Linked DNA regions of Homo sapiens. The protein of the gene in region 2 interacts with the protein of the main gene of each other region in a pairwise test. Each region holds a gene or a part of one and is shown on either strand. Other genes may lie near its edges. The genes, in order: HEXB, TLE1, H4C12 and H4C3.

Region 1 (5,597 bases), on a different chromosome or scaffold from region 2:
CTTAAATTATTTTGATTAGGGTTATTCAACTGTGCTTCGAACGCTAACATCAGGCTCAGCTACTTTTGCCTTAGAACTATCTACTTATCAAGCCATGAATCCTCAAGATCAAAATACACTGCTCAACCGGAGAAGTGGTTTGACCTAAATGTTTTAGTTTTTGGAGAGAAATTCAGGAGCACCTAGCTACTTCATTTTCAGTAAGAACAATTTTTATTGCTTTATTTATTGGACGAATAAAGTACTGTTTCAGTACATTCAGAGAACTAGATAAAAGATATAACTTAAGCTTTGATAGTGGCACTGGAGCCACCCGTTTTAATTTATATAATGAGAAATGTGCTTTGATGTTTAAAGCCACTGTACCTGAATCATGCTGTTCATCTATGAAGTTATTACTATAAGTAGCCTTCAGAAGAGTGGTATCACAAAGTTGTGTTTCTTTTGTGTCCTTAAGCTTGTCTCACAAGAAAGATGCCAGGCCTCTAAATGTAATAAGATAGAGGGTCAAAGGTTCAATCAATAAAAATATTTTATTCAAAAAACAGTCTAATATCTTATTTTACATGATTTCAAAATAAAGTTGATTGTAGTACAGATTGCTGTGGCCTTTTTCCCCTCCATTTTTTACATGTTCTCATGGTTACAATATCCAGCATAAAGAGGTTGTGCAGCTATTCCACGTCTGTAGATAACATGAATAAAGATATTTTAGATTGATTTAGATTGATATCATTCATAAAGATATTTTAGATTGATATTCATGTCATCTTAGAAACTTAAATTAGAATCACTAAATCACAGCATTACTGAAAATAAGGGAAGAAAATTAAAGCAACTCAAGATGGAGTTCTAAGTTACACCAACATTTTTTGTATCTATAAAACAGTCACAAGTCTGAATATATCTTTACAGGTATTATTACTTACAAAAAAATAATTCCTGGTTTCTTCTAATTACTATTTGTTAGGTAACATACATTTCTATTTATAGCAAAAGAAACTAACACTGAATAAGAAGGTTAAAAATCACACTGGACTTAATAGATTTCTTACTCGACCATCCTGCAGCGGTGCCTTGTCAGTCTGTCATAGGCGTCATCCATATCTCTGACATCTTTGGAACTCCAGAGTCTCTCACCAACAGCACTTGCCCGAGGCCTAAAATTTAAATCACACATCCCCCCGCAAGCAGTTTAAATTTATGTTTAGCACTTTTGTGTTTAGACAGAGAAGGAAAGCTAAGGCACCTTAATTCTTAAATGTTATCAGGTAAATCCCATACCATAATCTTGGAGTGAGGTTAGTTGCATCCACATATTCTCCCCATAGACAAGCTTCTCCACCAATGAAAAGTTGTTTCTGTTTCTGAGTACCTAAATTAAAATCATTGAATTAAGTTCAGAAGTTCAAAGCTTATACACAGAGGCAATATTTCATCAAGATTTGTTTCCTCCATCTTTATCCTAGGGCAACATTTCTTGCCCGTGGTTAGCAGGACCTTGGGAGATGCTAATGGTTGTGGCACAAAAAAGATGGCCCCTCCTCTTCCCCCACCCCCCAAAAAAATGGTTGCAAACTTTATCCCCAGCCCTGACCCACGGTTCACAGCACGTGTTAGCACCATAGATTAATGTAGTGGGCCAGTATTAAACAGTTTTATTTTGGTTTTATGCAAACTTACCTGGACACCAGAAACCATTTTTTAAATCCCTGGTTGCCTATTTAGTAGTGTGCCAGGGAATAGAAGTTGGAATACTAGTTTTTTAGTGGACTGTGACCACCATGCCTACCTTTAATTTCTACCTCTTGGCATTTAAAACAGAAATTGAATACTTAATGTGTGTGTTTTTTTTTTTTTTTGAGATGGAGTCTTGCTTGGTCACCCAGGCTGGAGTGCAGTGGCGCGATCTTGGCTCACTGCAACCTCCACCTCCTGGGTTCAAGCAATTCTCTGCCTCAGCCTCCCGAATAGCTGGGATTACAGGTACCCATCACCACGTCCGGCTAATTTTTGTATTTTTAGTAGAGACAGAATTTCACCATCTTAGGCAGGCTGGTCTTGAACTCCTGACCTCATGATCCACCTGCCTCGGCCTCCCAAAGTGCTGGGATTACAGGCGTCAGCCACCGTGCCCAGCCACTTAATGCTTTTTAAAAATCAGTAATTATCGCTTTTTGGTCCTCATAAAATGCATTGTATATAAAATTATCAATTCTTAATAGACCTATGGTTTTGAAACTTTTTTAAACAGCAAAATCCTTTTTCAGTGATTTTTCACTAAAGGCTAATGTACAAAATTGGACAAACTAGAATGTTTTTTATGAAGGGGATCTGAGAGCCTGAAGCTCCACCCTTCAGATGTTCCCTCCTGTCCCATCCACCAAGGATTCTACTCCTCAGAATCCTAAGACAACACAGCCTGAAATCCACTGAACTAAAACTATAGCTTTGCTTAGGTGTCTTACATTGGAGAAGCAGTTCAGAAGAGGGCATGTAAGGTTAATGCAATCAAATACCTTTAGAATGTAGAGAGTGAGGAGCCATCACTGAAAATGGAGATAAAATCTAAGGGGATCTATAATACTTTTGAAGTTCTTGAATTTAGGCAACTGTATGGTTTCTTGAGAGTTTAAAATGATACTGAACTTAAAAAAACACATAAAATCAAGGATCAAACATAAAAGATAGTTGGTAGGTAATATCTAGGTAAAGACTTCTGGGGTGGGAGGTTAGGGAAGAAAACTCATAAAACAAAGGTAACAATGGTTGCTTCACTTACCATCAGCTTCACAGTAACCCACAACACTTGGACCAACTGCTTCACTTACCGCCAAAATCAAGAGGTTCCACTTTATAGTATTTCCTCCAATCTTGTCCATAGCTAATCAAATCTAAGTACCAAGGAGCAGAAAGGATTACAGGGAAGCCAGATGCTGTGACTCTACTGAGTTCCTCAGGATATGCGCTGTCTTTCCATACTTCAACTATTGTGCCCGGCGCAAGCTATTAACGTTACAAATTGCAATACATATTATTAGGCCTAGAACAGTAGATGAAATTGAAAGTTTAAGGCATTATTACTAGGAACATAATTTTCTAAGATCCTTAAAAAAAATCTGCATTTTCTTTTTCCTCTTTTCTTCAGAGTTAGTGCCATGTGATACTCATTTTAGGGACTTAAAAGTTTCATCAACCTTAGGTTTGAATATTTAACTTTTGCTTATATATGGATACCACATAGGTTCAGTTAACTAAAGCTGAGACTTGCATTTTAGTCTTATTTCTACCAAACCTAGCTTGGAACTATGAGGTCCAAAGTGGTCACTAACTACACTAGAAAGGTAATACTAGTAGTTAGACTTGCAAATTCCCAGTTGCCCCAAGAAAAATAATTAAGTCTCTTATATTGATCAGATGCAGTCTTCACAATGCTCACCTTTGCTTTATCATCAAAAACCTCCTGCCAGACAATGGATCCCTTGTTTATGGTTGCAATAATATCCAAAACCCTAGTATTACAAAAAAATTATAGTTATTTTAGATCATAAGCTTAACAATATATTTAAAACATGTACATTTTCTACCAAGGATTTCTTGCATTTTGAGAGGTGCCTTTTAGTATAGTTCAGCTTTATAGCAGAAGCAGCTCAAGTTGGGAAGTGTCACAAGTAGTTCCTCCTTTTTAGCACTTGATACAGAACCTAACATAGTATGGGGGTTTAATAATCATTTGCTGAATGAATGAGTTAAACATGCCCCTAAGATAGGAAGAAGTGGCCTCAAATTGAGTTGGTAGGCAACTCAGGAAATTGTACAAACAGCAATCTCTTACAATTTTATGGCTGTCTTAAAATGGTAGGGACCACGATCTAGCCTGTCATATCACATAAATTACATGTAACAGTTACTGACAATCCACAAATATTTACAGATATTTACATAATGCCAGGTGCTCTGCAGATAAATAACACTTAAATGCATCACACAAAAAGCTGAACAGGCAAAGGCTGGAATCTGGGCTTGCCAAATAAATGGTACAGCATAAGGGTTGGCAACTACAGCTTGCAGGCTGTTTTTGTATGTCTCATGGGCTAAGAATGGTTTTTATATTTGTAAAGCATTTTTTTTTAAGTTTTAAAATTTGAGGTTTTTTTTAAGTTAAAAAAAAATTGTATGTGGTCCATGGGCAATTGTATGTGGCCCATGAAGCCTAAAATCTTTACTCTCTGACCCTTTACAGAAAAAGTTTGCCAATCCCTCTAGAGCAGCACGGTCTAGTAGAACTTCCTGGGATGGAAATGTGTATATATATATATATATATGCATTTTTCAGTATGGCAGTCACTAGCCTCAGCTGGCTACTGAACACTTGACATGTGGCTAATGCAACTGAGTAGCTGAATTTTTAACTTTCATTAATTTTAATTAATTTACATATGGACAGACACCTGTGGCTATGGCTACTGTATTGGGTAGCACAGGTATATAGTAAAATATATGTTCCTGGAATTGACAAAATGGAATGAATTCCAGGGGCTGGATGGTAGTGAAGACTTCACAGGGTAGCCAGGGCTTCAAGCTGAGTTTTATATTTATTGATGGATTGATTGATTGATTGATTGAGACAGTCTCACTCTGTTGCCCAGGCTGGAGTGCAGTGGTGCGATCTTAGCTCACTGTAACCTCCATCTCCCAGGAGATTCTCCCTCAGCCGCCCGAGTAGCTGGGACTACAGGCACCTGCCACCATGCCTGGCTAATTTTTTCATTTTTAGTAGAGATGGGATTTCACCATGTTGGCCAGGCTGGTCTCGAACTCCTGGCCTCCGGTGATCCACCTGCCTCGGCCTCCCAAAGTGCCGGGATTACAGGTGTGAGCCACCATGCCCAGCCCAATCTGAGTTTTTAGAACAGATGACTGCCTTCCTATATTTCAACAGCTATTGGAAAATACTTGGAGTCACCATGTTACTGATTTAAAGCAAGCAGTGGGTATTGCCTCCTTTAGTGATTTTTCACATCTACACTTAGGCAAAGGATGTAGAGAAAATGTAAAAAATAAAGCACATTACTAAATAAACTTTTACAAAAAGCATTAATACAGAAATAGGCTTTCAAACAACTTACTTTTGAATGTAGAAAGATTCTAGTTTCTTAAAATCTGTGCCAAAGCCTTTTTGCCTCATGAAATCTTGAATTTTTGGATTTGATTCCCTGAAGCAAAAAGTGATTAAAATTTCATTAGAAGTTTGATATGCTCAGTTTATTATTTAGAGCAGTATACATGCCTAACATCAGTTGTGCAGACTTAAAACTATTAAAGTTTGTAGGTAGTAAAAAGAAGCCTAAAAACTTAATTACAAGTTATCTTAATTATCCATTGCAAACAATTTTTTCAAGAAGCTGATTTCCTTTAAAAATGGCTTTCTTTACCTTACCACCTTTCTCCTCCATCTAAAGCTATTTGCAGAGAGAATTTTTATTTGAAAAATCTTTCCTATTTAATCATTGATTGCCCTCTTTCACTAAAGGTGTTCTCATTTCACAGTAGTCTTTTTTTGAATCTCCATTTTCTTCTGCATCTTGTTTTTCCTC
Region 2 (7,041 bases):
CAAGGTTGTTCTTTAAAGAACCTTGTGCTTCATTCAAAAATCGCCATCAGAAACGATCAGCCAACAGGGATCTGCTGAGCACAGATGCTGTGCAAGGCAACTAGCAGAGCTGCTGAGGGGAGGTCAGTGTAAGCCCCAGCAGGGACGGTGACTGGTGGACTCAGTTCTGCATGCTGAGAGGAAGGTGGTGGGGGAGGCAGCCAGAAAAGGCGAGCAAAGTCTAGACCCACCCTCAGAAGCAGGCGGGATCCAGTAAAGAACTGCGTGGGAATTTCAACACTGAGAAGAAAGTTACCATGCTGCTTCTTCCTCCAGGATCCCCACACCTTATCATTCCTGTAGAGCTCCAAACTTTTAACCTGAGCTTGGATTTTAAAGAGTGCAAGGGAAGGAAAAAGCACCACTACTGCCCTAAATTCTAAGCCAAGACGTGAACCATCACTTTTAAAATCTTCTCTCTGCAAGCCATCCCCAACTTCTGCACTTTAGGATCCAGGTTGAGTCCTCTCTCCTGCGGCCGTGCAGCTGGACCTCCAATGTTTCCGCTTGCTTCCCAGACATCCCCACAGAACACCCAGGCCTGGAGCAGTCCCTGCTTCACTTGGTGAAAGTGTTGCTTTCCTTCCCTTCAAACAGCTCTGGAAATCCAGTGACCCTCTGACTTCTTTTGACCTTTCTAACTCATGAAACGCTGTTCCTCCTTGACTGAAAACACCTTCCTCTGCTGACATACAGTACCTGGCAGCTGCTCCCCCATCCCTCTGCCCTCTCTCCGTCCATATACTATACTCCAGCATTACTCTCAGGCACATCCTATGACTGTTCAGAACGTGCTGGGTTACAGTGGATACAAAGACATTCAATAGGCTTTACATGGCCCTATTACATGCAGCAGCCACTAGCCACCTGTGAGTGGTCCAGAGAAAGATTTGTAAGACGCTACCCCATTCTATCCAACAGGTATTTACTCCCCAGGAGCCGGCACGGAGCAAGGGTTCAGAGTACAGACGAGAGCAGAATGCCTGGGCCTCAACTTGGCTCCACCACATCTGACTGTGTGACCTGAAGCCAGTAACTTACCCTCTCTGAGCCTCAGGCACTTCCTCTATAAAATGGGGCAAATAGCAGGACAGACGTTATGAGAACTAAGTGGAGGAATATTTGAAAAGTGCTTAGAATTGATATTTTGAAAGTGCTACTTATGGAGTTTTAAAAAAAGAAAAAAACAAGTAACTTTTGCTAGGATAAAAGGTGGAGAGGGCGTTCGGCCCTGGCTCCATCATTCCATTTTGCTCACCTACACTACCCAGCAAACAGAAGAGGAAAGTAACTGCCGCACTGTCACCCACACGCAGGGACCGGGCCCGGCTCAATGACACTTCATGGATTTCTACAGCGGAGGTTTGAAGAGAGTGAGCTGTCATGATGACTTCTGGAGCCCGTCCCTTCTCTGTGCAGCATGAGAGGGGACTTACCAAACAAGCCACAGACCCCAAACTGCACCATCCGCAGGGACGGCTTCCCAGCAAAGATGAAACAAGAGTAAAACATGTACTCATTTTACCTTTCATGTTTCATTCATGCTTACTTTAAAAAGACTTTTTGAGAACAGCTCTGGTGTGAGCACTGACTTCTGAAGGGAGCATTTGGCGGGGGAGCTGAGGAGAGACACATGGGTACCAGAACTGCAGCTGCTGCTAAGGTGACAGGGCTGATGCCAGAAGGCCAGGCAGAGCCCTGCGGGCTCCTGGGTGGAACCACCCCTGGGCAGGTCTATTTCATTATTGAGATACTTTAAAATCATTTTGTAGGCAAAATTCACAGAATCTCCTCTTCTCATGTCCCTTTGTTGATTTTCTGTTATCTTTTATCAGTTGGCTCTTGTCTGCACCAAGTTCTAGCCAAAGCCCAAAACATCTAGTATCAAGGGCCTTTTGTGCTGCCGTGTAATCCACATTAGGCCACCCCTTGGCAAAAGCCAGAAATATTTTTAGAACAAGTTTGGAGTCTGTATGTGGGCTGAAGAATTGGCACATTAAGGAGATAGAAAGTCTCGGGTGACACCAGGCATAGTAATAAGACTGTAAGCCCCCCAAAGGCAGCAACACAGTTGTCTTTGTTCCCTCATCACCTAGCCCCATGCCTGGCATTCAAGAGGCTCTTATTGTGTGGGCTGCAGGCAGCCAGAGAGAAGCAGAGGTGATAGGCCCAGCTGCTAAAGAAGCGAACCCCTCCTTAGACGACCATCTTTGCTCACCTCACTAGTGTCTGGTTGTGCAGATCCCACACAGCGATGTTGCCGTCGCTGCAGCATGAGAAGCAGACCTTGGAATCGGGGCTGATGGCCAGGGCGTAGCAGGCGGGGGCCGAGGACGTCAGCTCCGCCTTGATGCGCGGGGTTGGAGCCGCCAGGTCCCAAATGGACAAAGTACTGGCTTCCCCTCCCACTATGAGAGTGCAGCCATCGGGTAGCAATTTACAGGAACGGATATAATTGTCTCTGTTCTGTAGAATAAACATAATTCATTGCTATAATGAATTACCGAGCAATCATAGCACCATGTTCTCTAATGGCTGTCTTGGTTTTTTGAGTTAAGAGTGGTGTTTCATGGACACTCTAACAGAGCAAGAGTTCTCTAGTCAAGATTGGGGTCCAAGTACAACTGTCTCCTTCAAAATAGTAAACAAAACAAATTCACAGGAGCTTAGGTAACTGCTTCTGGTGTCCTGCATCACAGAGCTGAAACTATCTAGGTATGAGGTACAGGTGTACACATAGTTCCCTGAGAAGAAACCACTTTTCCAAGCTAGTTTATAAATCTACCTCATCACCCTGCATTATTTACCACTTGGAAACTGCAGGCCCATCCTCTATGTTTCGGTCTTCGTTATGCTGAGCACATTACCTCATTAGTCAGAAGGATTCTTGCTAAGAATTTACCAGAGCTGCTTTCTCAAGTTGTCATGTGGCTGCTGTTACACTTAAGCCCCTCAATGCAAAGGCCAAAGAACCTGATAAAAGCAGGCATCTTTCCATCAAAACCGACACATATGAAGGGGCTGTGGGTGGGGGGCCCTCATATGATCAACTCCTGAAAGATGCAGATATGGCTAAAGTTTGCTTACATGCTTTTAACGATGGATTATCTTTCAAAGATTAAAGAAACTTTAAGCACATGACTTCAACAAAGGATACTCCTACTGCTATAGAATATTGGGCCATATTTAAATAAGAATTTCATGAATGAAGACATTTTGAAGTTATTTGGTTTTTTTAAAAAATGCACTAATAACTACTCTAAAAAAAGTCTGTGTTTCCAAAACACCGCCACTCTGCTTTTTGGAAACACCTTCTCTGGAATCCTTACAATTTTCCAGGCAGGCAGTGGGTACGTGGCACCATCTGCAACAGCAGAGTGCAGGCAGACACCACACCAGGGCAGGGCAGGGCAGGGCAGCTCGGAGTCTGCTTAAGGCCAGTGGTATGTGCTCTGTAAATCCTGGGGTTATGGTTTAGAAATCGGAACATGGCCGGGCGCGGTGGCTCACGCCTATAATCCCAGCACTTTGGAAGGCCAAGGCGGGCGGATCACAAGGTCAGGAGATCGAGACCATTCTGGCTAACATGGTGAAACCCCGTCTCTACTAAAAATACAAAAAATTAGCCGGGCGTGGTGGTGGGCGCCCGTAGTCCCAGCTACTTGGGAGGCTGAGGCAGGAGAACGGCGTAAACCCCGGAGGCGGAGCCTGCAGTGAGCCGAGATCCGGCCACTGCACTCCAGCCTGGGCGACAGAGCAAGACTCCGTCTCAAAGAAAAAAGAAAAAAGAGATCCGAACATGTCCCAACATGTTTTATGTCCCTGAAAAATGCTAAATGGTATTCTCAGGCTCTGAGCGGACGTGGCTTAGGTACTCTGGGAAAGCATTCTCACTGCTCTCTTTCGTTGATGGCTGCCCCGGGTCTTTGCAGTGACAGCCTTTAACCCTTTCCTGAAGTTAAGGCCATAAAACCTAACCAGCTCTCTCAGGTCTCCCTTAAAAACACAGACCCTGTTCAGAATGGTTTTTATGCCATGTTATCAAATATTTACTATTCTATATTTATCTAAAGGCTGTAGGTCAATTAAAAAACGAGTGGATGGCAGGGATCAGAGTCCAGGCCCAGTTGTGCTTTTGTCCATTAAATGGGAAACTCTCTTTTGTAATACACATCCATACATGAGGAGAGCCTCTGTAAACCACTGTAAAATATTTTTTAAAAAGAAATCCATCAACTCTGGGATTTAGCCAGTACAACAGCAACAAATGAAACCTTCGCATTTAAATGGGGAGCCGAGGGGGTTAAATAACCAACACAGGAAACAGAAGGGGCTTCTATTTCCTCATAATGGGAATAAAACCCAGGCCCACACAGCTATTTCCTTATTGAATCTCCAGGGAGAAATTGCCCTTGTGCACCAGTTCCTGTTCACTCACCAGACAGTCGAGCTGGGAGACAGGGCTCTTATTGCCAGGGTGGCTGATGTCCCAGACCTTGACGCAGCCCTTCCCGCCTGTGTACACGTGTCTCGTGGGGTTGCTGATGGTCACAGCGCACACCACCTCCCCGTGGTTGAGGGTGTTGATCTGGCGAGCATGCCGGGGGATTCCGGGTCCGATGAGGGCGTCGGGGGGAAAAGGGACAGGCTGCATCTGACCGTCTGCAGTAACGTGGAAGGAGTATGCACTTTTGGAAAAACGATTGGAGAGAAGACAGAAAACACATTTACAGAGGAAGCAATCCCTATCTCGGCAATGTGCTACGACTATGAAAAAGATGAAAAAAAGGAAAGATTCTCTTGTATAGTTTCCTTTGAAATCAATACAAATTGAAGCATTTACTGCTGGTGCAAATTTAAAATAATTAATAGCAGAAATCTAGCGTGTACCAAATGACATATATATTGAACTGTATGTAAAATTTTTTAAGGGTTTTAAATTGTTCTTACCCATTCTGTAAAGCATTCCCTCAAATCTCATTATAAAACACTTAATGTACTTCCAAATGAACATAAAATACCTCCTTCCATGTATCTTGTGTAATTGTATGATTTCTTAGTATAATTTTAAATGATTGTTTTCCCTGCTAAAGATGAAGCCCTTAAGAACTAATAATAATTAAACAGAGTAGATATATTTCAACAGCAAAAACAACCTCCAAAAAAACAGCTTTCTAAAAATACCAGTTTATGGTATGGACTTCAACTTTCTCTTGCTTAAGGAAGAGAAAATAAGAGATTATCTTATATGGCTGTAAACAGAGATTTTAGGTTTCCTACTCAACAATCTTCCTTGCCTACCTTGGTCAGGAACGCCATTATATAAAACAGCAAAGTGTGCAGCTAAAAAACTACTCTTCCCCGGTCTCCTTTAGCCCAGCCTGCCTATGTTCTGACCAATGAGGTGTAAGAAGAAGCTGTTGGATGGCATTTTGAGGAAGCTCTGAACTTGAAAGAGGGGAGAGGGATGGGGGATATGGGAACTCTCTGTAACTTTCCACTCTATTTTGCCAAGAACCTATAACTGCTCTAAAAAAATAAATAGGGAGAGAGCATACTTGCCCTCTTCTCTTCTTCCTTCCCACTGCCTGAGCTAAGAGCAAGATGACTGGTGCTCCTACGGCCCCTCTGGGCCACAAGTTGATTTCAAAGACAGAAATCAATTGCTGGATAGCAAAGACTTGGAACCAACCCAAATGCCCATCAATGACAGAATGGATAAAGAAAATGTGGCACATATACACCATGGAATACTATGCAGCCATAAAAAAAAGGATGAGTTCATGTCCCTTGCAGGGACATGGATGAAACTGGAAACCATCATTCCCAGCAAACTAACACAGGAACAGAAAACCAAACCCTGCATGTTCTCACTCATAAATGGGAGTTGGACAATGAGAACAATGAGATCGCGCCACTGCACTCCAGCCTAGGCGACAAGAGCAAGACTACGTCTTAAAAAAAAAAAAAATTATGCACATTCTACTTTGAAGACCACTACTTCCACTTTCTTAACTTGAAATCACTAAGAGAGCTAGAAGTTCAAACCATAAACAATAAGTGAAGTATGCACTGCTTCCTCCTTCCCATTACCCTCGAGAAAGTCTGGGCCCTTTCTGGAGCTTGTCATTGGCAGCTTTAAATATAATGTAAACACCATGAGTACTAACACAGAGCTTAAATTTTCATTTTAATACAAACTCAAATTTTGTAAAGTAACTTAGCAAGCACAAAACTGAAAACCGATTATGCCAGGTCTCTAGCACCCTGCACTTAAAACCCACATACATTTGCTTGAAAATAAAATGCATGCTATTATCTTCCCTCCATAAAAGCAAAATATCAGACACATGAAGACTTTTAAACTTCCCCTCCACTCAATCACAGGACATAATCTCAATCTGTTATCTGCTGGCAAATTGGTTCCAGTAACTAATAGTAAATAGCTTTTTGGCCCAAATCCTTAATGTTACTCTTAATTTGAATGAATAAGCACGTATAATGGGAACCATGGAGACTGTCCTGGGGAATAAATACACATATAAAAACAATATAGCTCAAAGCCCTCACATCACCAAACCACTCAATCTCATTTTTTATCCAACAGGATTATTTGGTGTCCTTAGCAATATATCGAGTCCACATGATATTTCAACATGCACATTATAGTTAGTTGAACAGGAACCTATGCCACTTATTATGGGATACTTGGAGTCATAATCAAATAGCATTTTGTTGCCCTTGAAGACTGCCACAGAACTATGGGAGTTTAAGTCTATTCATGTCCTACAAGAATTCTAGGCTTTGAAGAATGCTCAACGAACAAAGTCCAGTAGCCAAGTTCTATGACTCAGAATCAGGCTCCATACTCTGGGTCCAAAAACAACAAAAAAATTGCCAGGTGATACTGAAGAAATGACAAGTAAATTTCCATAAAATTAAACAATTGAGGCTGGGCGCGGTGGCTCACGCCTGTAATCCCAGCACTCTGGGAGGCCAAGG
Region 3 (5,497 bases), on a different chromosome or scaffold from region 2:
AGGATCTCCAGTCCATTGAAATACATTAATTTTTGAGTCTCTTCACACATTTTTATTTCCTAGATTTAAGTCTTGATTGCAATCACATACAACTAGTATTTCTTGGAATAAAACAGCAATCACAAAAATCATAAATATCACATTGTTTAAAAAAATTTATTATTTGATGTTGAGGACTCCATCCTGATTTCAATGAATTAATTCATTTGTTCCCTTTTAAAATGTCATCTGTGTTATTTATGTGTATAAATTTTCAATAATTGTTTCTCAATATAGAGTAAATGATACAGCTCCATAGAAGGCCTGTAAGATTTTTGAAATTAAAATAAGTTTTTAAATAAAATATGCTGTTATGATCATTGAAGTTGATAATAAAATTATTCCATTGATTCTGTTTCTCCCAAGAACCACCATTTAATCATGAAAGCTAGCTAAGTAATATTTTTCAGAGTTCGTGAGTTCCAGAAGTAAAATTCTTTAAGCTAAACAGCTTGTAAAGTAACTTTTGCTTTATAATTATTATAATTTTGGGTGTTATTTATGCAAACTCAAATCAATGTACTCATAATCAAAACATTGACATGCAAACTTATGTATTAAGCAAAATAAAATATACAAGTGTGATATATCATTGTTTATAATTCCACATACACATGTAAAGGAAAATGGAGGAGCTGTTAAATGAGTAGCTTCACAGTAAGTAAACTAGAGGAGGCAACCTAAAGATCAGAGAGATCCAAGGGGCAAGGAGCAATTAGGAACATTTATAGTGCCTTATCACTTCATGGTATTATATCATCTGTGAAATATTGAATTAAATGAATGTCCTTACTGATTTGATGCCCTCTGAAGGTTTGTTGAAAAATCAGACATGAGGTAGATTAATAGAAAAAAAGGCAGACAAATTTACAATGTGCATGGGGAGAATCAGTGATTGCCCACCCCAGAACGTGGTTCAGAAGTTTATATACCATCCTTGAAAAACAGTTTGAGGGAGGGAGAAGAGGAATTCATTTGAGGGGATTACTAGGAAGAATGAATGGATCAGGGAAAAGAAATTAAACTTGTACCTTATCTTGTGAAATGAGCTGTTCGGGTGTGATTACATTCGTCTTACAGGGACTCATTTTTGGTGAGTCCAGATAACAGGAAGACAAAGGTTGGGGAGTGGGAGAAGGTCAAAGAGACTTTGAGGCTTCTGCAGTTCAGCTTGTCACCATGCCATAGTTTGGGGTATTGGTTTCTGAGCCCCGACATTGACAATATGTACTAAAAATAAATATTTGTTATTTAAATTAACTACTTAATGTGTTATACATAATTAGATAAATTGATGTATTAACATATTTAAAGTATAATATAAACAAAATATTTGTAAATTAGTTGTAAAGAAAAAAATTACGTATATTAAATAGAGGTTGGCTTTCTGCTTAATATTTTACATACATTATCTCCATTGTTTTATTTTTTTAATTTTTTTTATTTTTTAGATGAAGGTCTTGTGATGTTGCCCAGGCTGATCTCTGACTCCTGAGCTTGCACAATCCTCCCACTCCTGAACACATGCAATCCCCCCACCTCAGCCTCCAGAGTAGCTGGGACTACAGGCAGGCTACTGAGACTGGCCTCCATTAATTCTTACAGTACCTCAAAGAGGTAAATACTGTAGGGGCTAAGGGAAGTTTCATAGAAAATCAACTGACAAAAGACAGAATAATGGGAGAAATGGCACAGAAATTTAATAATGTGCACGAGGGAGAATTACAAAGTGATTACCCCAGTCCCTAAAGGAGTACAGAAGCTTATGTAACTTTTTTCATAGGGGAAGGAGGAGATGGGAAAGGTAGACAATTCCTTTGAGGGGCAATAAAGGCTTGTTATGGAAAATAAATGGGCCACAGAAAGAAATTAGCTTGTAAATGATTGTCTTCATAATTTATTTATTTATTTTGAGATGGGGTCTTAATCCGTCTCCCAGGCTGTCACCCAGGCTGGAGTGCAGTGGCACAGTCTCCACTCACTGCAACCTCCACCTCTGGGATTCAAGTGATCCTCCTACCTCAGGCTCCCTAGTAGCTGCGACCACAGGCATGCACCACTACAACTGGCTAATTTTTTTTTTTTTCAGACAGAGTTTCACTCTTGTTGCCCAGGTTGGAGTGCAATGGTGCAATCTCGGCTCACTGCAACCTCCGCCTCCCAGGTTCAAGTGATTCTCCTGCCTCAGCCTCCCAAGTAGCTGGGATTACAGGCATGTGACACCACCTGGCTAATTTTTTGTATATTTTGTAGAGACAGGGATTCGCCATGTTGGCCAGGCTGGTCTCGAACTCCTGAGCTCAAGGGATCCACCTGCCTCGACCTCCCACAGTGCTGGGATTAGTGGGAGGAGCCACAGCACCTAGTATGTCTTGGTAATTTAAATGAGACCGAGAGGCAGACATTATCTTGAAAAATCCATATTCAGTATTCTTTTCTGCAATAATGAAATAACAGGGAGGGGATAGAAGGCAATTGTTACTTCTGGTAAGAAATTTTCTTGGTCCGATTAGGAAATGTCAGAGTCCCTTCGCATGTATGGGAAAGAAGACGAAGTTAGAGGGGCTTTGATTCTGAAGCTTATTTCTGAGGCCTTTCAATGTTCAAAAGCGCTCAGCATGCCCAAGAACCACATTTTGGGGAATCATTCTGCACCCCAACAGTACCGTCACTATCCTATTCTAACTTTGTAGATGAGCAAAGATTTAAAAAGAATAAACAAGTCACCTCGTGTCTGATCGGTAACAAGTCAGCTCGAGTCTGAAAGGTAAACATTTAATCTAAAACCAAAGTTTTCTATTTCCAGAGTTTCAACTCTTAACTACTTTCTAAACAAAGAATTGAATACTAAGAGATTATATTAGAATAGTTATAGGAGTTTTATAATTTTCATTGATGTTAAAATAATTTCAGAGTGGCCGAGCGCAGTGGCTCAAGCCTGTAATCCCAGCACATTGGGAGGCCGAGGCATATGGATCACGAGGTCGGGAGTTGGAGACTAGCCTGGCCAACATGGTGAAACCCCGTCTCTACTAAAGATACAAAAAAATTAGCCGGGCGTGGTGGTGAGTGCCTGTAATCCCAGCTACTCAGGGGAGGCTGAGGTGGGAGAATCGCTTGAACCCGGGAGGTGGAGGTTGCAGTGAGCCAAGATTGGGCCATTGCACTCCAGCCTGAGCGAAAGGGCGAGACTCCGTCTCCACAAAAAAAAAAAAAAAAAAAAAAATTCAGAGTATAACCCTGTATTTATTAATAAGAAAGAAAATCAAATATACGGAATCAAAGTTGCTCCATAATGGTTGATAACAAATCTTTAGTTGGGTCATATAAAAGTGTCTTTTTAAAAACCTACAAGCGTCCAAGCGAAGCGGCTCACGCCTGTAATCCCAGCACTTTGGGAGGCTGAGGCGGGCGGATCACGATGTCAAGAGATCAAGAGCATCCTGTCCAACATGGTGAAACTTGTTCTTTACTAAAAATACAAAAAATTAGCTGGGCGTGGTGGCGCATGCCTGTAGTCCGCGCTAATCCGGAGGTTGAGGCATGAGAATCGCTTGAACCCGGGAGGTGGAGGTTGCAGTGAGCCGAGATTGCACCACTGCCCTCCGGCCTGACGACAGAGCGAGACTCCTTCCAAAAAAAAAAAAAAACCCCACACACAAAACCTACAAACACCAATTTTCTAGTTATAAGAGCTTGTTTTAAGGATTTTAATTCTATTCCAATTAAGTCCTAAAGCTAATGCAATTATCAAAATCTCGAAGAGATTTTATTCAAACTTCACAAAAGGTCTCTAAAGTTGTCCAGAAACCTTGGTGAAACAGATTAGGAAATTTGGAAAGGAAATAATGCGGAGACCCGTAGTACCAAATCATGAGACCTCTAATACAATTTTAAATATTAATGTAATAAAATTTAAATTTTGGTGTAATAAAATCATAAATTTCAATATTGGTCCCAAGTATAGAGAAAAAGTACATTTATGTTGAATGTGGAAAACATTATTTTTAAAATACAGCCGATTAAAAAATTGCTGGGGAACTGATTATAACTATTGATAATTCCTAAGAAACATAGACACCAAAACATCACTTTTATCTCTTTAATAGAAATTGGTTAAATTATAATCAATATAAGGAGGTTACAAAACTCCATATACAACACTGTATACATTTTCTTGGAAAAATATGTGCAACTGCTCTGCAAAATACATGATTAACTAGCCTGTGTGATGGGATAACATTGTAGTTTCTTAATTTCTTGTCCTTTCTTGTATTTCCCACAGTATTGATGTATATCTTCTGCGTTCAAAAGCAATTTTTTAAAGCCTCATAACGTGGTAACAAAATACTATGCACGTTACAAAATTCAGAACACGGAAACAAGAAGCTCGCTTTTTTTTTCCCCCTATTTCGGTTTGGCCCTTTAGATTTCCCCTCCCCCACCGGGGCGGGACTTCCCGCCGACTTCTTTCAGGTTCTCAGTTCGGTCCGCCAACTGTCGTATAAAGGCGCTGCCTCAGGCCAGAGTCCTCACAAAGCGTTGGGTGAGACTCCTCTTGCTCGTCATGTCTGGCCGCGGCAAAGGCGGGAAGGGTCTTGGCAAAGGCGGCGCTAAGCGCCACCGTAAAGTACTGCGCGACAATATCCAGGGCATCACCAAGCCGGCCATCCGGCGCCTTGCTCGCCGCGGCGGCGTGAAGCGCATCTCCGGCCTCATCTACGAGGAGACTCGCGGGGTGCTGAAGGTGTTCCTGGAGAACGTGATCCGGGACGCCGTGACCTATACAGAGCACGCCAAGCGCAAGACGGTCACCGCCATGGATGTGGTCTACGCGCTCAAGCGCCAGGGCCGCACCCTCTACGGTTTCGGTGGTTGAGCGTCCCTTTCTATCAACAAAAGGCCCTTTTTAGGGCCCCCACTTTCTCAGCTGAGGAGCCGTGATGCTTGTTTGCCCAGTTTCTCTTTACCATTTGTTCGCGCCTGCTGAGTTTGTGCTGCTATCGGAGCATGCGTCTCTAGTCGCTGTAAGTAGGCATCAGTCACTAATCGCTCTCCAGTAAATAAAATACCCAACACAACTTGTTTCAGGTGCTCCAGAGCTTACTGACATGGGCCGTCGCGCAGACTGTAGTGCAGTGTCATCATGGCTCACTGTAGCCTCCCGATTAGCCGGAACCTCGCGCCCACCACCACGCAAGGCTAATTATTTTTCCAAAGACCGGGTCTCCGTGTGTTTCCCAGGCTAGTTTCGATATCCTGGCCTCAATCCCCTCGCCTATGCCTAATGTTGGTATTACAGTAGTGAGCCACCACGCCTGGCCACGATACTGTTGAGGTTTTAGGGTTAGTTACATTTAAGGGGCAATTTTCGCAGTGTAGTGGGGAGGAAAGTCAAGCAGTTATAGGTTTCTGGCGCTGTGAATCCAACTGCTGAACATAGCAAGAACTTATTATG
Region 4 (5,425 bases), on a different chromosome or scaffold from region 2:
TGCGATCCACCCACCTCAGCGTCCGAAAGGATTATCAGGAGTGAGCCACCGTGCCCGGCCAAATTTCTAACTTTTGAATTGACATATTCATTTATTCTCTTTATCATTCAGGGAGAAATTTGGGGATGGATAGCCTTGAAGCATCATCCACCAAGTTATTTTATACACCAGATTTAGATACAAAGTATTTTTTTATTATTTAAAAAAATCAAATTCTAGCTTTTACTCTGAAGATTCTAAAAAGAATTTTGGAGTCTTTAATTCATACTTCAGGGGCAGGGGAATAAGTACCAATATTCGTATAACTTTCAGTGCAAGTCACGTTAGCTAACTGTAGTCTATTGAGTTAAATATCCTTGATTTATTCCTTAAAACTGAGTCACTATGACGGCACTTTTTTGTTTTTTTTTTTCGAGACGGAGCTCGCCCTGTCTCCCAGGCTGGAGTGCGGTGGTGCGATCTCGGCTCACTGCAATCTCCGCCTCCCAGGTTCAAGCGATTCTCCTGCCCCAGCCTCCTGAGTAGCTGGGACTACAGGCACACACCACCACGCCCAGCTAATGTTTGTATTTTTAGTAGAGACAGGGTTTCATCATTTTGGTCAGGCTGGTCTTGAACTCCTGACCTCGTGATCAGCCTGCCTCGACCTCCCAAAGTGCTGGGATTACAGTCATGAGCCACTGCACCCGGCTGAATGGCACTTTCATAAAACAGTAAATAACCAACTTCACTACTGCCCCCAAGAGTTTTACTATGTATATGAGGGCATCTGTTTTAAGTATGGGTATAATGTTACGGGTTTTTCTTTGTGTAAGTTTGGGTTCACAATTTCATCATTAAAACAAATGTAAAATACTTTGTGCTTTCTGTGTGCTATTAAGAAAGTATTCAAGGGAATTTTGAAAATCAAATTTAATTACTCTCATGTTTGTAAAATTTTTGAAACAAATGTTTAAGAGAGGATAATGTTAGAAATTATCTTTCCAGCCAGACCTGGTGGCTCACGCCAGTAATCCTAGCATTTTGGGAGGACAAGGTGGGCAGATCACTTAAGCCCAGGAATTCAAGACCAGCCTGGACAACACAGGGAAAGCCCATCTCTACAAAATATACAAAATTAGTGGCCGAGCGTGGTGGCTCACGCCTGTAATCCCAGCACTTTGGGAGGCCGAGGCGGGCAGATCACCTGAGGTCAGGAGTTCCAGACCAGCCTCAACATGGAGAAACCCCGTCTCTACTAAAAATACAAAATTAGCTGGGCGTGGTGATGCATGCCTGTAATCCCAGCTACTCGGGAGGCTGAGGCAGGAGAATTGCTTGAACCTGGGAGGTAGAGGTTGCGGTGAGCCGAGATCCCGCCATTGCACTCCAGCCTGGGCAACAAGAGCGAAACTCCATCTCAAAAAACAAAACAAACAAATAAACAAAATTAGTCAGGTGTGGTTGTGCACACCTGTAGTCCCAGCTACTTGGGAGGCTGAGGTGGGAGGATCACTTGAGCCCGGGGAAGTGTAGGCTACCATGAGCCATCATGGTGCCACTGTACTCCAGTCTAGGAAAAAAATAAACATTAAAAATTTTAAAATCTTAAAAAAAGAAAAGAAATTTTCTGTCCAGATATCTTTATTTTTAACAAATCGAAGTGTATTAATAGTGTTTATGGGAGCGTGCCCACACAAGGACAGCAAGCCTAGGAAGTGCAAGTCAAGAAAACTTTTTGTGAAATAATTTAAACTGAAAAGAAAAAGCAGAGATTTTTTTCTAGAAAAGTAAGGAGTGGAGGTAAAAAAAAAACACAGCAGAGACACAGGTATGCTACGGAACCAAAGGTGTGCCAATGGTACTGACAGTTTAATTCAGAAAAAAATGAATCAGAAAATGGATATTTTTAAATAAGTTAGGTTGCTGAAAAAGAGAAATGCAGTGAAGCCTTAGATGGGAGTGAGATAAATCAGCCATTGGCTAGAGGAGTTTCTTGCCCAAGACCAGTGGTGATGTCCCCAAATGCCTGGAAACAACTGTTGTGACATTATAAAGCCCCCATAGTCTAAGTTGGGTGAGACTATACTTATGCATTTTCTCACCTGTAATATAGCTTAAAAGTATTTCTACTCTGGGATTTCTTTACATTTTACTAAAGCGCAATTATATACTTAAAACTGATAGTGTATGCTGGGCTGCTAGTCATTCTCAACCCTGGCCAATTATCAGAATTGTTTGTTGAATATATAGGTGCCATATATAGGTGCATACACACACACACACACACACATACACACACACACACACACACACACACCATATTTCATTCCTCATATCGAATATTCTGAGAGAGTTAGTTTGTGGAGGGTAGTTCTGGACAATTTATATTTTCATAACACCTCTGGTTATTTTTTTTTAAGTAGAGATGAAGACTTGCTATGTTGCCCAAAATGGTCTTGAACTCCTGAGCTCAAGCGATTCTCCCAACTCAGCCTCCTGAAGTGCTGGGATTACAGCCGTGAGCCACTGCATTAACCTCTGATTAATATCATAGATTAACCTCTGATTAATATCATAGATTTATTTGTTTGAATGCTTCATGTATCCTCTCAACCACAACTTGTTTGCAGAGTTTTAATCTGAAGGGCTTAGGTCTCTTGTTCAATGAATGAGTTTGATCTGATGGGTGAGAGGAAGGTGAAATGGAAAGCGAACGAGAAGCCATACAGATTAGGCGAGTGAGCCTAATCTCTCCCTAACCATAAGATTGAGTATGCCTGAATTCTTCGCAGAGTGGAAGAATCCATTTTAAATATATATATCTACATGTACAGATCCTTTAAATATTTGTTCTGACATTCATTGTTTTTGAGTCACTGTCATTGAGAAAAGTTTAGAAAGGAGATATTAGGAGCAGGAAATAGAAAGTAAATAAAATATCAAAATAAAAATGGGGTTTTATAAATGATATAATAGGCAAAATAAAGGAAAGGCATCCTAGACCTCTGGTTAAAATGAAGATGGCACTTGGCGAGATGTGTTCCAGGGTAGTTCACATGATGTATGTTTTCAGAGAATTGTCATATTGCATATGCTGCTATATTTTTTATTTTCATGAATTAAAAGGCATGTTGAGATTTCAGAGTTTTACTTATGATCTCAGACTCTGCATTTTTTCTCTGTAATGTTTGACATTTCTTCCTAGCTAAGTCTCTAGTTATAAGGTCTGTGTTGTGGCATGTGGACAGTGAGTGGAAGAACCTAAGAACTCAATTTGGGGCAGAAGAATGTAATCAATTATTTCAGAAGTGATACAAACAATATGACATGTAGAGCATTCTGGCCTTTCCTGGGTCTTTTTTCTCCATTCCTGGATTTCTTCTCTTCATGTGAGCAAGTCTGAGGTTACTATATAATGTCTCTCACAGGCCACAGCCCCATTCTAAATATTCCCAATAGAAATTCATTTATTAACCAGAGAGTGGTGGGTGGGGTTGTTTTTGTTTTTTAAACAAAAGTGGATCTTATGGGCATTCTGGAAAGCTCCCGCAGGAAGCTAAGAATAAAATTTTGAATTGAGAAGTCCCTTTCTTCAAACCACATTCAGACCCAATTCTGCTATTCTATTTATTTTTCAAGGGGATTAGCCTTATTTTAACACCAATAATCTTATCACAAAAACCTCCCAGAGGAAGACCCTGTAGATTTTGTAATGACCTTAATCAAGTATTAGCCCTACACTTCAATTAATCCCCAACTGTACAAAACGAATGTTCTTTTCTCTAAAGCTGTAGCAAGTTGAAAGGGGATTAAAAACGGAGGGAAGGGAAGAGTGTTTGGAATTTCAGGCACAGCAAACAGGCACAGCAGACCAGGAAGAGCGTCCCGGGAAAACATATTATCCAGACTTAAGTTTATATTCCCTGTCTCTCTCAGACTTTTGCAGAAAAATGAGTCATTCAACAAATATTTGAATCGAGATAGGGAAAGTGACGAGGAAGAAGTTTGCACTTATGAGGTTTTAATTTGCAATTATTTGGCTACCTTTTTGCCTTCCCAAAACATAGGGTCTTTAGGAGTGAAACTTCATAGCCAAACTTATACCTTGTCCAGCACAGAGAAGGCCATCAAAATGCCTGGTTTAAATAAAAATATTAAAATGATTGGGAGGGTAAATCCCTTGACCTATAAATCTGACCTCCTTTAAACATTATTTGTATGTTCCCCAATAAACTATTCCGTAATTTATTAGTTAGCAAGTGGAAATAAAAAGAAATGTGGAATGGGGCTATGCTTAGCGTCATTAAGCTGACAGGAATACAGCGCATTCAACTTGCAAACACCCTTCCACTCCCACAAAGAGCAAGCTGTCACTGGCCAATCAAAACAATGAACCATAATGAAACAGTTTTTCTTGCTCCACCCACTTGGTGACCAAATTTGAAAAAAAAAAAAAACCGCGCCAACTCATGTTGTTTTCAATCAGGTCCGCCAAGTTTGTATTTAAGGAACTGTTTCAGTTCATACCTTCCACTGCGATAGGAATCATGTCTGGTCGCGGCAAAGGCGGAAAAGGCTTGGGGAAGGGTGGTGCTAAGCGCCATCGTAAGGTGCTCCGGGATAACATCCAGGGCATTACAAAACCGGCTATTCGCCGTTTGGCTCGGCGCGGTGGCGTCAAGCGCATTTCCGGTCTTATCTATGAGGAGACTCGAGGTGTGCTTAAGGTTTTCTTAGAGAACGTTATTCGAGACGCCGTCACCTATACGGAGCACGCCAAGCGCAAAACTGTCACAGCCATGGATGTAGTATATGCCCTAAAACGTCAGGGGCGCACTCTGTATGGCTTCGGCGGCTGAATCTAAGAATACGCGGTCTCCTGAGAACTTCAAAAAACAAAAACAAAAAAACCCAAAGGCCCTTTTCAGGGCCGCTCACAAAGTCGTTTAAAGAGCTGAAATGCGTTGCGAGAATGAGTTTGGATGACAGAAATAACCGTGACATCCTGCATAAGAATGAATTGTGTTTGCCATGACCGGCCACACTGTGACAAAATTTCAAAGCATAAAGTAGGCATAGAGAGGTAAGCGCTAATAAAGTGATTGGCTCCACAAAAAGCATTTTGCTGGGCGCAGTGGCTCACGACTGTAATCCCAGCACTTTGGGAGGCCAAAGCTAGTGTATCACTTGAGATCAAGAATCCGAGACCAGCCTGGCCAAAATGGTGAAACCCCCTCTACCAAAAAAAATACAAAACTTAGCCGGGCGTGGTGGTCTGCACCTGTAGGCCCAGCTAGCCCGGAAGCAGAGATTGCAGTGAGCCGAGATCGCGCCACTCCCCTCCAGCCTGGGAGACAGAGAGAGACTCCTCAAAAAAAAAAAAAAAAAAAAAAAAAAAAATTATGTATTTTAGAGCATTCTAAGAATGGTACTTTGGACTTAA

What was found.
Region 1: the proteins of TLE1 (region 2) and HEXB interact in binary tests that used the Homo sapiens proteins (3 or more experiments, as listed by UniProt).
Region 3: the proteins of TLE1 (region 2) and H4C12 interact in binary tests that used the Homo sapiens proteins (3 or more experiments, as listed by UniProt).
Region 4: the proteins of TLE1 (region 2) and H4C3 interact in binary tests that used the Homo sapiens proteins (3 or more experiments, as listed by UniProt).

Annotation. Positions count from the first base shown.
Region 1 is NC_000005.10:74,716,206-74,721,802, reverse strand, and holds the end of HEXB (beta-hexosaminidase subunit beta isoform 1 preproprotein), read right to left. Parts: intron 5,217-5,597; coding exon 5,130-5,216; intron 3,513-5,129; coding exon 3,440-3,512; intron 3,007-3,439; coding exon 2,832-3,006; intron 1,376-2,831; coding exon 1,285-1,375; intron 1,161-1,284; coding exon 1,056-1,160; intron 686-1,055; coding exon 628-685; 3' UTR 515-627; downstream 1-514. Other genes in the region: GFM2 (ribosome-releasing factor 2, mitochondrial), read left to right, coding at 20-148. UniProt on the Homo sapiens protein: Hydrolyzes the non-reducing end N-acetyl-D-hexosamine and/or sulfated N-acetyl-D-hexosamine of glycoconjugates, such as the oligosaccharide moieties from proteins and neutral glycolipids, or from certain mucopolysaccharides.
Region 2 is NC_000009.12:81,588,548-81,595,588, forward strand, and holds part of TLE1 (transducin-like enhancer protein 1), read right to left. Parts: intron 4,728-7,041; coding exon 4,478-4,727; intron 2,506-4,477; coding exon 2,258-2,505; intron 1,564-2,257; exon of another isoform or gene 961-1,563; intron 1-960. UniProt on the Homo sapiens protein: Transcriptional corepressor that binds to a number of transcription factors. Inhibits NF-kappa-B-regulated gene expression. Inhibits the transcriptional activation mediated by FOXA2, and by CTNNB1 and TCF family members in Wnt signaling.
Region 3 is NC_000006.12:27,830,637-27,836,133, reverse strand, and holds H4C12 (histone H4), read left to right. Parts: upstream 1-4,573; 5' UTR 4,574-4,606; coding exon 4,607-4,918; 3' UTR 4,919-4,960; downstream 4,961-5,497. UniProt on the Homo sapiens protein: Core component of nucleosome. Nucleosomes wrap and compact DNA into chromatin, limiting DNA accessibility to the cellular machineries which require DNA as a template.
Region 4 is NC_000006.12:26,099,419-26,104,843, forward strand, and holds H4C3 (histone H4), read left to right. Parts: upstream 1-4,514; 5' UTR 4,515-4,529; coding exon 4,530-4,841; 3' UTR 4,842-4,919; downstream 4,920-5,425. UniProt on the Homo sapiens protein: Core component of nucleosome. Nucleosomes wrap and compact DNA into chromatin, limiting DNA accessibility to the cellular machineries which require DNA as a template.